Linked DNA regions of Homo sapiens. The protein of the gene in region 1 binds, or shares a complex with, the protein of each later gene. Each region holds a gene or a part of one and is shown in the gene's direction. Other genes may lie near its edges. The genes, in order: XPR1 and KIDINS220.

What was found.
Region 2: the proteins of XPR1 (region 1) and KIDINS220 are in contact, whole or in part, in a cryo-EM structure (PDB 9JXQ), measured with the Homo sapiens proteins. Residues at the interface, in NP_004727.2 of Homo sapiens: Leu95, Lys189, Lys190, Gln193, Glu197, Ala200, Asn204, Glu205, Ala636, Asp637, Asp638, Leu641, Leu642, Gln644, Met645, Met646, Asp647, Gln648, Asp649, Asp650, Val652, Arg653, Asn654, Arg655; in NP_065789.1 of Homo sapiens: Glu36, Cys37, Gln39, Asp70, Trp72, Met102, Trp105, Trp110, Tyr113, Lys114, Val138, Ile142, Trp143, Gly146, Arg147, Ser166, Asp167, Lys168, Tyr169, Gly170, Trp176, Arg179, Lys180, Gln198, Glu199, Gly200, Ala201, Ser203, Lys234, Arg267.

Annotation. Positions count from the first base shown.
Region 1 is NC_000001.11:180,627,125-180,635,157, forward strand, and holds the start of XPR1 (solute carrier family 53 member 1), read left to right. Parts: upstream 1-4,897; 5' UTR 4,898-5,077; coding exon 5,078-5,146; intron 5,147-8,033. UniProt on the Homo sapiens protein: Inorganic ion transporter that mediates phosphate ion export across plasma membrane.
Region 2 is NC_000002.12:8,834,434-8,841,560, reverse strand, and holds the start of KIDINS220 (kinase D-interacting substrate of 220 kDa), read left to right. Parts: upstream 1-3,947; 5' UTR 3,948-4,081; intron 4,082-7,127. UniProt on the Homo sapiens protein: Promotes a prolonged MAP-kinase signaling by neurotrophins through activation of a Rap1-dependent mechanism. Provides a docking site for the CRKL-C3G complex, resulting in Rap1-dependent sustained ERK activation.

The DNA of each region.
Region 1 (8,033 bases):
TGACATTGTTGATCACTGCCTCCTTTATGAAATTTTCATCTTTTTATGGCTTCCTTGACACTACTCTCTCCTGATAGTCTTGCTGCCCACCCTGACTACATCTCAGCCTCCCTCCTTGACCCATCTTCTTTATCAGGCTCACGGGAGGATGTTCCCTTGGGCTCTTTTCCTTTTCACTCTATTCTCTCTCTCGGCAGATTTGCCAGACTTAATTATCACTTAAATGCAAATGGTTCCTCAGTTTTCAGTCTTAACTTCTCTTTCTAGAGCTCTAGATCAGTATTTCCAACTGGAGTACTGCATGTTCCATTGATTCCTTCATATTTCCCACATCTCATGGAACCCCAGACCTGCTCTCTACTTTCATTTCTCATCTCAGTTCATGACAGCAGCATCTACCCAATCACTACAGTTAGAGTCACACGTCACATCTTCTTCTGTCCATGATCCTGATTGGCTGGAGCTGTTGCATCCACAGTCAGTATAATACTCATAGCACTCAAGAGCAAGGACTCTGCATCTGGGTTGCCAGGGCTCAGACCCAGGTCTATTACTCACTAGGGGGGTGCTCTTGAGTAAGATGCTTAACCTCTATGTCTAACTTTACTCATCTATAAAATGAAGATAACAATAGTAGCTACTTCTTAGAGTTCTTGTGAAGATTAAATACATTTATATTTGTAAAGTGCTTAGAACAGTGCCTGGCACATCATAAGTGTTACATAGCTGCTTGTTAATAAGTTGGTCTTGAGTTTGTCCCTGCCCTAGTCCATCCTTCACACTGCTGACAGATGTTTTTGAGGGGTTACCAATTTTTATGTTAAATCAGGGGCCAGTCATTATGTTAAGTGTTTTATATGGAGAATCTCATTTAATTCTCCAAACAACTTGTGAGGGAGGTGTGATAATACCCATTTAAGAGAGGAGGAAACTGGGGCTTTAAGAGCTAGTGCACTTTGCCGAAGGTCACATAGTTTGTAAATGCCAGAGTTGGGATTTTAATTCAGGCCTGTTTACTCCCAGAGCTAGTGCTCAAAACCAGGAAGCTACGCTAGCCTGCTTTTCCAAACCTAAGTTAGTCACTCACTGCTTAACCTTCTTCAAAGACCTCACACTGCCTATGCCGTCAGGAACTATTCCTTCACAATCTTGTTGCAACTTAACTTTATTTCCTACAACTTTACTCCATGGGGCTTCCTGTTTCCTTCTTCCTTCTCCCTCTGTTGGCCTCTTTTCCTTTGTTCCTTCAACCTTTATTGAATGCCTGAGTGCCAGGCACTGTGCTAAATTGGAGAAAACAAGAGACGAGCAGTTTATCTTCAAGGACCTCATAGTCTGATACAAACTATTATTGACAATACAGTAAGGGGAGTGCACTCAGGCAATGTGGGAGCCAGACTGGGAAGACAAGGGACAGGAGCAGGGAGAGTGTATTAGTCCGTTTTCATGCTGCTAATAAAGACATACCCAAGATTAGATAACTTATAAAGGAAAAGAGGTTTAATGGACTCACAGTTCCACATGGCTAGGGAGGCTTCACAATCATGGTGGAATGTGAAGAAGGAGCAAAGGCATGTCTTATGTGGCAGCAGGCAAGAGAGTATGTGCAGGGGAGCTGTCCTTTATAAAACCATCAGATCTCATGAGACTTATCCACTATCACAAGAACAGCATGGGAAAACCTGCCTTCATGATTCAATTACTTGCCACCAGGTCCCTCCCAAGACATATGGGGATTATGGGAACTAAGAGTCAAGATAAGATTTGGGTGGGGACACAGCCAAACTGTATCAGACCGTTTCTTTGAGAGGGGACATTTGGCTGCCTTAAAGGATACTCTGGTCAGAAAATTTCTTGTCATTCTTTAACAATTCTGACTTTGCCTTTTGCCTTAGGGAATCTTTGGGGTGTCTTTTTCCCTGTCAGATGATTGACTAAGACTGGATTTCAAAATCAGCTTCTCTGATCCTTGGATGTTTGTTTCTTTACACATATGTCAATTATAGCATGTATCGCACTGTAGCCTAAGAGCTATTGGTCTACCTGCCCATCTTTTTTTTTTTTGTTTGAGAGAGAGAGTCTTGCTCTGTCTCCCAGGCTGGAGTGCAGTGGTGCAATCTCGGCTCACTGCAACCTCTGCCTCCTGAGTTCAAGTGATTCTCATGCCTCAGCCTCCTGAGTAGCTGGGATTACAGGCATGTGCCACCAGGCCTGGATAATTTTTTTTTTTTTTGTATGTTTAGTAGAGATGGGTTTTCACCATGTTGGCCAGGCTGGTCTTGAACTCCTGACCTCAAATGATCCACCCACCTCGGCCTCTCAAAGTGCTGGGATTACAGGTGTGAACCGTCATGCCTGGCCCCATCTTTTTGACTAAATTGTGATTTCCTCCAAGGAAAAAACAGAGTCTTAATTTATTTTTGAACGGTCCTTCATTCCTAAAGTGACATAACCGGAATATCATAGGTCTCAATAAAGTTTTGTTAAATGAAGGGTTGCTTGCCTATTCACAAAAGAAAGTATAAGTCAGGGGGCTCTTCTGATTCAGAGTAAATAAGAGAGTCGGTGTTCCATAATTACTAAGTATTTGATGGTTCTATCAGTAAAATACCCAAAAATAACGCTGGGAATGAGGAAATGTATTTATTTACTTATTTTGAGACGGGGTCTTGCTCTGTTACCCAGGCTGGAGTGCAGTGGTGCAATCTTGGCTCACTGCAACCTCCACCTCCCGGGTTCAAGTGATTCTCTCACCTTAGCCTCCTGAGTAGCTGGGACTACAGGTGTGCACCGCCATGCCCGGCTAATTTTTGTATGTTTAGTAGAGATGGGGTTTCCCCATGTTGGGCAGGCTAGTCTTGAACTCCTGACCTCAGGTGATCCTCCCGCCTCGGCCTCCCAAAGTGCTGGGATTACAGGCGTGAGTTACTGTGCCTGGCAGGAAATTTATTATTAAATCTACTTCTGTGGATAAATTAAGTTGTCATGTCCTGGGTGGCAGGGCTCTGGATCAGGCATGAGAAAAATCAAGAATTTTAGAGCTAGTTTTGAGGGTTTCCTTACTTTCTTGGGTTGGGCCATGGTTCCAGAATTTTGTGCACAATTAAGGCATAGAGGTACGGTGCTGCTGGGAGCAGTGTGCCATGGTCCACCAGGGTTGCTACTAAGAATTTCCCATTCTAGTCCATGACTGGCTAAAGGCAGGAATCTCTTTTGTAGCTGTCCCTGGTTCCCTTTTCCCAGGCACAACATACAGCCATTTCCTTTCTGTGGTCTCGCCTCCTTCCTGGTAGCACACATATTCCTTTTTGCCTGTCTCTTTCTCCTGGCAAGGTTTACCTCCAGCAGAGGGGAATCTTTATGGTGAGCAGACGGAGGTCTGAGGTGAGAGGAGTCCTCACTCTTCTTTCTTTATTTTTTTGACCTTGATTACCCTTTCACCAGAGGTTAAGGCTTTTATACAGAAAAAGCCAGAAAGACTCATAGTCTATGCCTATTTTCCATCTTGTGTCATCCCTCTCCTGGGGAAATGATTGCAGAATCCCTATTGGCATGAATTAAGGGGAAGAGAAAGGGGAAAAAAGTACATGGAGAAAAAAAGACAACAGCAGAGAATGATATCTCAGAGCACTGCTCCAGGCATAGCAGTTCCCTAGTAAATCTTGAAATCTCATCAAAATTGTGAGGGTTAGGCTGAGCAAGGTGGCTCATGCCTGTAATTCCAGCACTTTAGGAGGCCTAGGTGGGAGGACTGTTTTAGCTCAGGAGCTCAAGACCAGCCTGGGCAACATAGCAAGACCCACATCTCTCCCAAAAATAAACAAAAAAATTAGTTTGGCATAATGGCATGTGCCTGTAGTCCCAGCTACTCAGGGGGCTGAGGTGGGAGGATGGCTCACAAACCTATGTGAGGTAAGGCTGCAGTGAACCATGATGGTGTGACTGCACTCCAGCCTGGGCAACAAAGCGAGACCAAAAAAAAAAATGTTAGAATCAAGGGACAAAGTACATGTAAGAGGTTTAGAATAGCACTTGGTACAGGAACAGTGAGTGCTCAATAAATTATTATTAGGTCTCCTCCACCCAGGGTAGGACCTGGGTTTCTGTCCTGAATTGGGACTTCCAAGACAATCACTCCCACACTCAATGTAGTACAGAGCTCTGTGAGTGATCTCTGCCCATGTTCCCCAGGGACACTTCAGCCTGGGTGCTGGGCCTGTTTCCGGTTTTACTGGGGTGGGCTTAGAGCTGTACTTCTACGGGGTTCTCTTTCCTCTCAACGTTGGTTTCCCTCCCAACCCTCACCCCCAACCCCAGGAAGCTCAGTTTACAAGTGCGGTCGGTACCCTCATTTGGTGTTTTTATTGGCTTTTCTGATAGCCCCTGGACTAGACAATTACATTGAAATTCAGAAGCAGCATGCACTTTTTGGCATTGATGTCTTTAATTAAATTCAATAAGCACTTATTGAGCACCTAGAGTGTGTAAAATACTGTTCCTTTAAATACATTTAGTCCTGAACTGTTTTAGCTTCTTAGTTTGGATTAGTGCTGATCCATTTCTTAAAGGTTTTATGAAGCATAAATATCAAAATGGAAAAATATTTGCACAGTTCTTTGTAAATATAAACGTCTTGTGTGGATTATTGTTGCTACAGTATTAATATTAACTGCAGTAACAACACTGCTGCTTCCCAGACAGGCGGTAGAAAGCAGCTGTAGGCCAACAGGAGCCAGACTGAAGAGATCCAGGGAGGTGCCTCCAGCACGTACGGCCCACAAGGGGCGGAGTCTTAAGAAGCGTACCCAAGCCCCACCCCTTACAGCACCCCCTTCGTCAGGGCGGTGTAGGCGGTTACCATGGCGATGACGTCCAGAGGGCGGGGAGGGGCGGGGCTATGGAGAGGAGGAGGAAGATGGCGGGCGGGCTGCTCTGAAGAGACCTCGGCGGCGGCGGAGGAGGAGAGAAGCGCAGCGCCGCGCCGCGCCGGGGCCCATGTGGGGAGGAGTCGGAGTCGCTGTTGCCGCCGCCGCCTGTAGCTGCTGGACCCGAGTGGGAGTGAGGGGGAAACGGCAGGATGAAGTTCGCCGAGCACCTCTCCGCGCACATCACTCCCGAGTGGAGGAAGCAATACATCCAGTATGAGGTACCGGCACGGCTGGGGTGTGGGAGGACTCGGAGGGGCCACCATCTCGCCAGTCCTGACGTCCACCGCCGCCTTCCGCTTCAGCTGGCTCCCTGTGCCCGGGCAGACTTTGACCCGCTGCCGCGGGGAGCCACTGCGGCATCCCCGCCGCGGCCGGCCGCCTCCCGGCTCCGCTGTCCTTCCCCTCCCCCGCAGCCCCGCTGCCGCCGGGGTAACGGATATGCAGGCGGAGGGCCGGGAGGAAAGGCGCTGCCCGGGCCGGGGCCGGGGCCGGGGAACGGTGGGAGGGTGAGCTGCAGGTGGGGGAGTCACGGTGCGAGGGCAGCCCCGGGTCGCGGCTGTTCCGCGCTAATCCCCTTCTCCCCACTCGCCCTGACCTCTCGTCCCCACCCTGGGCGAGCGCCCCCTCGCCAAGGTTAGGTCTTGTTTCTCTCTCTACACCTCTCACCAAGGAATCCTTGTCTTCCAAGAGAAGCCCCTCCAGTGATTTCCTTCATTCCAAAGAGCCCTTCGGCTTTTTCCCACTTGCCCACTGTTGACAAAGGCTTTGTAACGGGGTTGAAACTTGACTTAAGTGTGTATCACATATGTAGTGGTTATAGTTTTTGTAAACACGTTGTAATCAACTATTCTGCTTTGATAATAAGACTCTTTTTACTGATTGCATGAAGTCTACAGAGTAATAACATCTTTGTTTTTGCCTCTTGTTTTGGAATGGAGGGAAGAGAAAGGAGAGAAGAGAATTATTAACATTTTTTTATTTTCTGCTAAGTTTTTGCTAGCTGGGGAGAAAATTAGTATATTGTAAACAATATACCTTACCTGTGTATTACAGAAATCATGCTCCCCATTCCCTCCCAATTTCTGTGCTAACACTGCTGGAAGGTATTTAATAGATAATAAGGAACCTTACATTAATAAAGGGAAAAATAAAGATAATGAACCCATTTATATGTTCAGAAGACAAGATACCTAAGAGGCTTTAAGCATTGCAATAGGTTATTCTCAGTAGCTGGCAATTCAGCTCCTGGATAGAGAAAGACAGACTTATCTGTAACCTCCAGGAATTCACATCTGTTTTGTGTGCAGGAACAAAGAATATAAAATCAATATGAACACACATAACTTAGCTAGATTTTATGAATTAAACTATTTTAGTTCTCCATTTAATTTTTATATAAGTTTAGTGATAGGAGGTTTGGGCAATAGCAGTGAGTGTATTTATTCATATAGCCATTGTAATAATTGAAGAAGACAGGGAAAGAGATGCAGGTAGGTTAAACGGAATCTTGAATATTGTGAAATAAATTCACTTGCAACCTAGAGTATTTCATTATTGCTAGAAATGAAAGGCCTATAATTATTAATGCTTTATTGTCACTCAATTTCTTACAGTATTTTGTGGCCATGTTTTGTAAGAATGAGTGAAATAAGGGACTAACATTTCAGCCTGCAGAGTTGATTTATTGTTTCTAATAACATTTAGTTTTAAAACCTTGGCTAGAATCCAAGTGATGGTTTTTATTGAAAGAAGGGTATTGGTCTTTCATCTTTCTAGTAGTAATTTTCAGCACCACTGCCAGTTCTTCACAGAGGCACAGGATAGGAGCATGCTGAAGCACATCTTATATTTGTTATGTAGCATGGAATGCTTTGGGCAGAAGTAATAGTGGCTGGATGTATGCCATGATTCATTTTAGGTATTTCGACACTTAACTATTTCATGGAATTGTATTAATTTGCAATATCTGGGGCTGGAAGGAGAAGCATACGATTTAGTTTGAAAATGCAACCCTCTTAATTTGTAATGTCAGTTTTGTGGCTGGAGAACCACATTGATTCTGGGACTCCTCATTCACATAGTCCACTTGGATACTGTTCCTAAATGTTTACTGTAGGTTGGTCACAGAGGGGCAAAATTCCTGAGATTATGTTGTGTCTGCATTATCTTTCTCAGGGCAGTTATAAATTATGTTTTGAAAAATTCGTTTATTGTGGATAATTGAAATTTGATTCTGCGGAGAGTTCCTACTATATGGCTCCTGTCCTAGATAAACTCATTGTTTGGTAGACAAAATTAAATGAGGCGCACTTTTCTTTGTAAGTTGGAATCAACCAATATTTTATAGGGTTGGAATCTTGTTTTGTGTGTTGTTTCTGAAGAGTTGGTGCTATTCCTTTAAAAGTAATAGAGAGATGTAAATAAGAGTCTTTAGAGTCCAGGAATTTTAGCAGTTTAAAACTTTGGGGAAAAAGGACATCCATAAAAATTCTCTAGAGAAAAGGACCTTTTCATAATGAATTAAATTGTAGTTTCTCATATGAAGATGATGCTCTTAAAATGCTATCAGTAGAACAGATGCTGGGATTTGTTTTTCAAGCACTGGTGGTGAAATTTTTGTATTTTACCCTTGGTTTCTAGCCTAGGGTGCTTTCTAGTATCGTGAATCAATGTGAACTGTTCAGCTTCTTTGGTTTTTGTGTCATTTTGCTATATTAAATATTACTTGAAATAAGCAGAGAATTAGAATCTGAAAATTTTGTTTTACATCTGTAATTATATTTAATTATATATAATATGTATATATTGTAGCACAGTAAATACTAGTTTTTGTATGTGTTAGCCATGAGACCTGGGGACAATCTTTTTTGCCTTTCCCGGGCTCGCTCTTCTTCCATAAAGTAAGTATATAGGGCCAGAGCTTTTCAAGGTCCATTATAGGTCATGTTTTTGATTTAACTTTTAATGGCTTTTATTCCTTGAACTGATAAAATTATTAATGATAATAACCCATCAATATCCTGAAAATTATTATGTTTTTTAATTTAAAAATAAGTTGTGGTGTTCATAGATTCAGTCTTCATAGGCAGAATAATAAAGCATAAA
Region 2 (7,127 bases), on another chromosome or scaffold:
CTTGGCGGCTTCACCTGCTTAATAAAACCTTGGACTTAAAAAGTAAAGTCTTAAAAAGTAGAAAGTAAACCCCTTTCTACTGATAATAACTCTTTCAACCAATTGCCAATCAGAGAAATTTTAAATCTACCTATGACCTGGAAGCACCCCCTCCCTTCCAGCTGTCCCGCCCTTCCAGATGGAACCAATGTAAATCTTACATGTATGGATTGATGTGTTATGCATCCCTAACATGTTTAAAAGCAAGCTGTACCCTGATCCCCCTGGGCACATGTCCTTAGGACTGCCTGAGAGTATGTCACGGGTGCTCCTTAGCATTGGCAAAATAAACTTTCTTAATTGACTGAGACTGTCTCAGATATTTTGGGTTCATACCCTCATGAAACAAGGAGAGAATACCCCCACACATACAATGAAGACCTAAATGGTGTGATTTCTTTGGTAATGGCTTTGCTAAGGGCAGCCACTCTTGTAAACAGGGCGGGGTGGAGGAGGGGGTGTCGGAGGTATGGTGGGATATAAGGATGAAGTCGACCTTAGAGTCGGGGAGAGAACAAGGACAGAGATTAAATGTGCCTTCTTTAACACAGCCTTTCTGAGTCCTGACACTGTCCCAGGCACTGTGCAGTACGAAGATAAGCACGGAGAATGAAATGGCCAACTCTGTGGGGGTCCACTAGGAAGGTTCACAAAAGAGGTGACCCCCTCTGCTGTATCTTAAATAGAATTTGCCCATCACATTCGGTTGGATGAGGCTAGGAAGAATGTCCAGGTTGGAGAACATCACTTTGGAAAAGAATGGAGATGAGAAGGAGCACGGCTCAAAGTTCCAGGAACTGTCAATATTTACCAGCCTTGGGGTGGGAGTAGCAGCGTGGGAGGGGGCAGGAAACAGAGCAGGGCCAGCCTCTGAAGAGCCTCGAGTGTTAAGTACCATTTGGGAATTTGTTCTGGGGAAACAGAAGGCCACTGAAGAGTTTAATGAAAGAAGTGGCATTAGCTGGCAAGCTTGTGGAGAAATGGTTAGCAGGGCTACTGGGTTAGCAGGGAGAGTTGCTGGGGGTATTCGGATAGTCCCGGTTGGGAGCTCTGAGGCCTTTAAACAGATCACTGGGATGAAAGTGGCTACAGTCAGGTGATGGGCTGATTAACTGACCATTTAATCAGGGGGAAGATGACTTCCAACTTCCGGTTTTGGTGGTTAGGGTTGGAGCCAGGTCTCTGAAACTAGTGACGCAGGAGCAAGGGTGGGTGGGAGGGGTATGGGTGAGTCCAGTGGGGACAGAACTCTGCAACCCCAACAATTCATGGGAGGTGGAATCTGAGAAGGAGCTGCCAGAAGAATGGGATAGAAGCCCAGGAGAAGAAATATTTCCAGGAGGGGGCCGGGCGCGGTGGCTCACGCCTGTAATCCCAGCACTTTGGGAGGCTGAGGCGGGCGGATCATGAGGTCAGGAGATCGAGACCATCCTGGCTAACACGATGAAACCCCGTCTCTACTAAATATACAAAAAATTAACCGACCGCGGTGGCGGGCGCCTGTAGTCCCAGCTACTCGGGAGGCTGAGGCAGGAGAATGGCGTGAATCCGGGAGGTAGAGCTTGCAGTGAGTTGAGATCGCACCACTGCACTCCAGCCTGGGCAACAGAACGAGACTCTGTCTCCAAAAAAAAAAAAAAGAAATATTTCCAGGAGGGAGTGCTAAACTGTGCTACCAAGAGAGGGAGGGAAGAGGATGAGGGAGGACAGAAGGAGGACTAGGGGAAGTGGTGGGAGGATTGGAGAGGCTTGGGTGGCTGGAGGAAGACGGGAGGACAGAGGGGGGGATGGGAGGAAGAGGGGTGTGGGGAGAGTTGGGGGAGGATGTGGGGGCAGAGGGTGGAGGAAGCAGTGAGAGGATAAGAGGAGGATGGAGGGGATTGAGGGAAACAGCTGGAGGCTGAGGAAAGATGGGGTTGGGGGGTGGTGGGAAGGGTAGTGGATGCTGGGGGAGGCAGCCTTCTATTTCCATAGGACAAATTTGATACTCTTCTAATCCCTTCAGTGGCCTTCTATTTCCCTAGAACAAATTCCCAAATGGTACTTAACACTCAAGGCCCTTCAGAGGCTGACCCCTGCTCCATCTACTGCCCCCTCCCATGCTGCCACCCCAGCCCCAAGGCTGGCAAATATTGACAGTTCCTGGAACTTTGGGCCACCCTCCTTCTCATCTCTATTCTTTTCCAAAGTGTTGTTCCCCGACCTGGACATTCTTCCTAGCCCCATCCAACTGATGTGATGGACAAACTATACTTCAGATACAGCTGGAGGTGCGGGGGGGGGGGGTCCCTTCTTTTGTGAACCTTCCTAGTGGACCCCAAGCAGAGTTGGTAACTCCATCCTCTGTGCTTACCTCCTTACTGCACTGTGCCTAGGACATGGTCAGGACTCAGAAAGGCTGTGCTAAATAACGCACATTTAACCTGTTTCCTTGTCTTCTCCCCTACTCTAAGGTTGGCTTCATCCTTATATCCTACTGATATGGTTTGGCTCTGTGACCCCACCCAAATCTCATCTCGAATTGTATTCCCCATAATCCCCACGTGTCAAGGGAGGGACTTGGTCGGGGGTGATTGGATCACGTCAGCGGTTTCCCCCGTGCTGTTCTCGTGATAGTGAGTGAATTCTCACGAGATCTGTTGGATGTAAAAGGGGCTTTTGACCCTTTTGCTGGGCACCTCTCTTCCTGCAGCCATGTGACGAAGGACGTGTTTGCTTCCCTTTCCGCCATGATTTTAAGTTTCCTGAGGCTTCTCCAGCCATGCAGAACTGTGAGTCAATTAAACCTCTTTTCTTTATAAATTACCCTGTCTCAGGTGGTTCTTTATAGCAGTGTGAAAACGGGCTAATACACCTACCATACTTCTAACCCCCAACGCCTGACCCACCCTGCCCTGTTTACAACAGTGGCTGGCCTTAGCAAGTCATTATCGAAGAAATCACACCATTTAGGACTCCACTGTACACGTTGGGGTGTTCGCTCCTTGTTTCATGAGGGGCACACCAACTTCCGTTTTTGTTTGTTTGTTTGTTTGTTTGGAGATAGGATCTTGCCCTGTTGCCCTGGCTGAAGTGCAGTGGTGTGATCTCAGCTCACTGCAGCCTCGAACTCCTGGGCTCAAGTGATCCTCTCACCTCTGTCTCCTAAGTGGCTGGGACTACAGGTGTGCAACACCACGCCTGGCTAAGTTTTGTATTTTTGTATTTTTTTTTTTTTTTTTTTTTTTTGTAGAGAAGAGGTCTCTCCATGTTGCCCAGGCTGGTTTCAAACTCCTGAGCTCAAGTGATCCTCCGTCTTGGCCTCCCAAAATGCTGGGATTACAGGAGTGAGCCATTGTCCCCACCCCGCACCAACTTCTGATGAAGTCAGGCTCCTTATTGGCTTTTTCCTGAGTTGCCAGGTTGACACATTGGTGGGTGCTTTTCGATGGTTCGCAACCTACGCACGTCGTAATCATCCTTGGACCTTTTCAAAAATCAAGATTGACGCTTGTTGGCAGCAAGGCCTAGGAATGTGGAGGCTGAAGGAGGTGAGGGGAGGTGCTGGGAGACCTGGAAGGAGTGTGAACTACAGGCCCCGCGAAAGGCAGAGGTCTCGCTCCTGGATCCGGAAGAAGGCTGCTGAGCGGGCTTTCATTTCTTATGTATGTGCAGTTTCTTCTGAAGATATAATTGATGTTTATTTCTCTGAATAAGCTTGATTATAATGGAAAATAGGGATAATAAATTAACTGTAATAAGAGTGACATTGACACTGAAAAACCTTGCCTGGGGCGCTTGTCCTGGGTGTCCCCGCCCCGCGGCCCCTCCAGCCCCGCCTGCTCTACGCCCCGCCCCGCCCCTCCCCTCCACGCCCAGGGGGCGTGGCAACCCGGAGTCCCTCCCCTACCCAGGGCACGTGATCTGTCAGTTCGCGGAGAGGGAAGAATATGGCCGCCGGGTGTGGTGAGGGCGACGCGCTTGCAGTCGCCGTCTCTTGCTTCCCCGTCCTCTGACATCGCCTGCAGCCGAGCGGGCCCGTTCCGCCGGAGCTGAGGACCAGGTTGGGAGACCGTCAGTGTGGAGGCCGGTCCGCGAAGCTTTGCCGCGGGATTGGGGAGGAGTCGGGGGCGAGGCCGGGCTCGGGGAGTCGGGCGGGGAGGTGGGACAGCCGAGGAGTGCGCGGAAGGGGCGAGCTCGGACCGGGGGTCCCGGGGAGGGCATGGCGCGGGCCCCGGACGCTCGGGCCCCGGCTTTCGGGGCGAGTCCGCGTTTCCTGGAGCGCCGGGAAGGTCTCCGACCTTGGAGTCTCTGGTGGTCTGTCTCCTGAGGGGCCCCTCGGGTGGGTTGGGGTGAAGGGTGTTGGTAAAACCGTTTTTTTTCTTTTGCCAAGCAGCCTCTGGCACATCCACCACCTTGAGAGCCCCCTTAGCTGGTACCGCTAGTCTTTCTAGGTTCCTCCTCCTAGGCTTCCACGGGCCGGGAGGTGTTGTTTTCTCCCTTGCTTTTATCGTGGGCTCCATTGCTCCATTGTCCTGTGCAGGCTTTTAAACGCCTGGCAAAATAGTGCAAGCCATTGATTTCCACGCCTCCAAGATTTATTTATAGGGAAATAATTTCTTCATCACTTTGTAATGTTGGAATTTTTATTCTTTCAAGTTGACAGGTTTAAACCGATGAAAAATTTTTTTATGAATAACTATGCAGCCATCTCTGCTCCCTATGGGCGCTTGTTAAAAATGTAGATTTCTTAGCGTTTTAGAGATTCCCATTCCTTCGGCCTGAGGTGTGGCTCGGGAATCACCCCTTCAGGTTCGTTCCTGTCCACATTTTGACAACACTGAGGACCAGACATCTACACCTTTTTAAACCACCGTGGGGTATTGAGTGCAGAGCCCAGGTTGGGAAATGCCGTGGCCAGGTGTGTTCTTTGTTCTCTTCTAGCTTTACTAGCATGGACTACTTTCATCAGAATCATTTTGGGGTGCTTGTTAAAATGTCAGTTTCTGGGCACCACCCCAGATCTAGGGAATGGGATTCTCCCGGGGAGGAGCTCAAGGGATATGTGTATTTGACAAGCTTCCCAAATAATTTTGGTGCACACAAGTTTGAGAATCCTTGTTCTACACCCTTTGTGTGAATAATTTCCAGATCATTCACACACAGTGTGAACGGTATCTTTTTCCAAGTATTGGGTGGGTTTCTCCAACCTAGTTCTTTTGGGACACTTCAAATTCAGCCTGGCCAAAGCCCCATTCGCCCAGCTGGGGTGGTGGAAGGGAGGAGGCATAACTTAAGTAGAGAAAAGTCTGCTCTTTCTCCTGCTTTTTTTTTTTTGGTTAAGGGCAGCTCCATTCTTCAGTCACCTATGCTGGGCATCTGGTCATCTTCCACCTGTTTTCTTTTCCAACCAGTCACATAGTTTTATCTTTATATCCAGAATATCTCTTCTGGATATTTTGGTAGTTCAGAAAGTTCAAATGTCAGGGATTTTATATTTTTCAAGTTAATATCCCTCATTTCTTCTCTATTCCCACTGCCTCTCTTGTGTACTGTCTGGTGATTCCTTGACTGGTATCTAGGGCCCTGATTCTTTGTATTTTTCCAGTCTGGGTCACATACACTGCCAGATTAATTTTTATAGGATCATGTATGAATGTGCCATCCCCTTCTTCCTGCTTTTGCTCAAGAACGGTCAGTTTCTCCATTTTATGTGCTACTGTATTTGTCAGGGCTGTTTAGAAGACAGTAGAAACTTAAACCTTTTACTTCAAGGAAAAGGAGATAATAGGATTGAATGAGAGTCAGAAAGAAGTCAGGATCCCAGGTACCTCCATTTTCTACATCTCCCTGGGGCAACTTTTTTTTTTTTTTTTTTTTTTTGAGACAGGGTCTGGCTCTGTTGCCCAGGCTGGAGTGCAGGTGGTGTGATCTTGGCTCACTGCAGCCCTGACCTCCTCTTAGGGGCCACATTTGTTCTCTTACTTAGGAGGAGTCTCTTTTCTGTTCATATCTGTTGTATTCTCTCTTTGCTGATTGGCTGTCTCAGAACTGTATCATTTTATGTGTGACCCATATTGATTGGCCCAGTCTCTGGTTTCTAATTCCCAGTTCTAGAGAGAGAAGTCTGATTGGCCCAGCTTATCTTTTTCAACAGTTTCATGCCACAGATCATATGCCCATCCCTGGGAATGGCTGATGCTAGAGAACATGGCTGTTGAGGGTAGCAGGGGCTGTGGGTGGGCAAAGTCCTTCAGAAGAGGTATCTTTAGCATACCTATGCAGTTATTTAATTTGATGGTTATCTATTAAGTTTCTACCTGTTCTAGATCTGTAATAGGTTCTGGGGATGTAAGAATGAAGGAGAGAGACAGCCCTTAATAAATTAGTTCAAGGCTGGGCATGCAGGCTCACACCTGTAATCTCAGTGCTTTGGGAGGCTAAGGCAGGAGGATCACTTCAGGCTAGGAGTTCAAGAGCAGCCTCGGCAATATAGCAAGTCCTGTCTCTACAAAAATTAAAAATGTAAACAATGATCTGGGTGTGTTGGCATGCACCTGTAGTCCCAGCTATTCAGGGAGGGTGAGGCAGGAGGATCGCTTGAGTCCAGGAGTTTGAGTCTGCAGTGAGCTATGAATGTGCCACTGCACTCCATCCTGGGCAATAGAGCCAGACCCTGTCTCAATAAAAATAAATAACTAAATACATACATACATACATACATATACATACATAAGTTAGTTTATAGGTGACCCGCGAGGGGGGTTTTGAAGGGTGTGTTTTGGCTTGTTAAGAATGTTAAAGTTGGGTCAGGCATTACAGGTGGTTGGATCAGCTTGGGCATGTCCATTCATTCTACCGATACTGGGTTCTGTGGTGTACCAGGCACTTCTCTTAAGTGCTGGAGATTCAGCAGTAAACAAAACAGATAGTCTTTATTCTCATTGAGCTACATTTGTTTGGCTAGGGGAAGCAGACCAAAAACAAAGTATGTGGTATGTGGAGTGATGCTAGGTGTTATAAAGAAGACCTTTAAAGTAGGGCTGTGGAAGGGGGATATAGTAGAGGGGGAGAGGGCTGTTTTATACACGTATAAATGGTATACACCA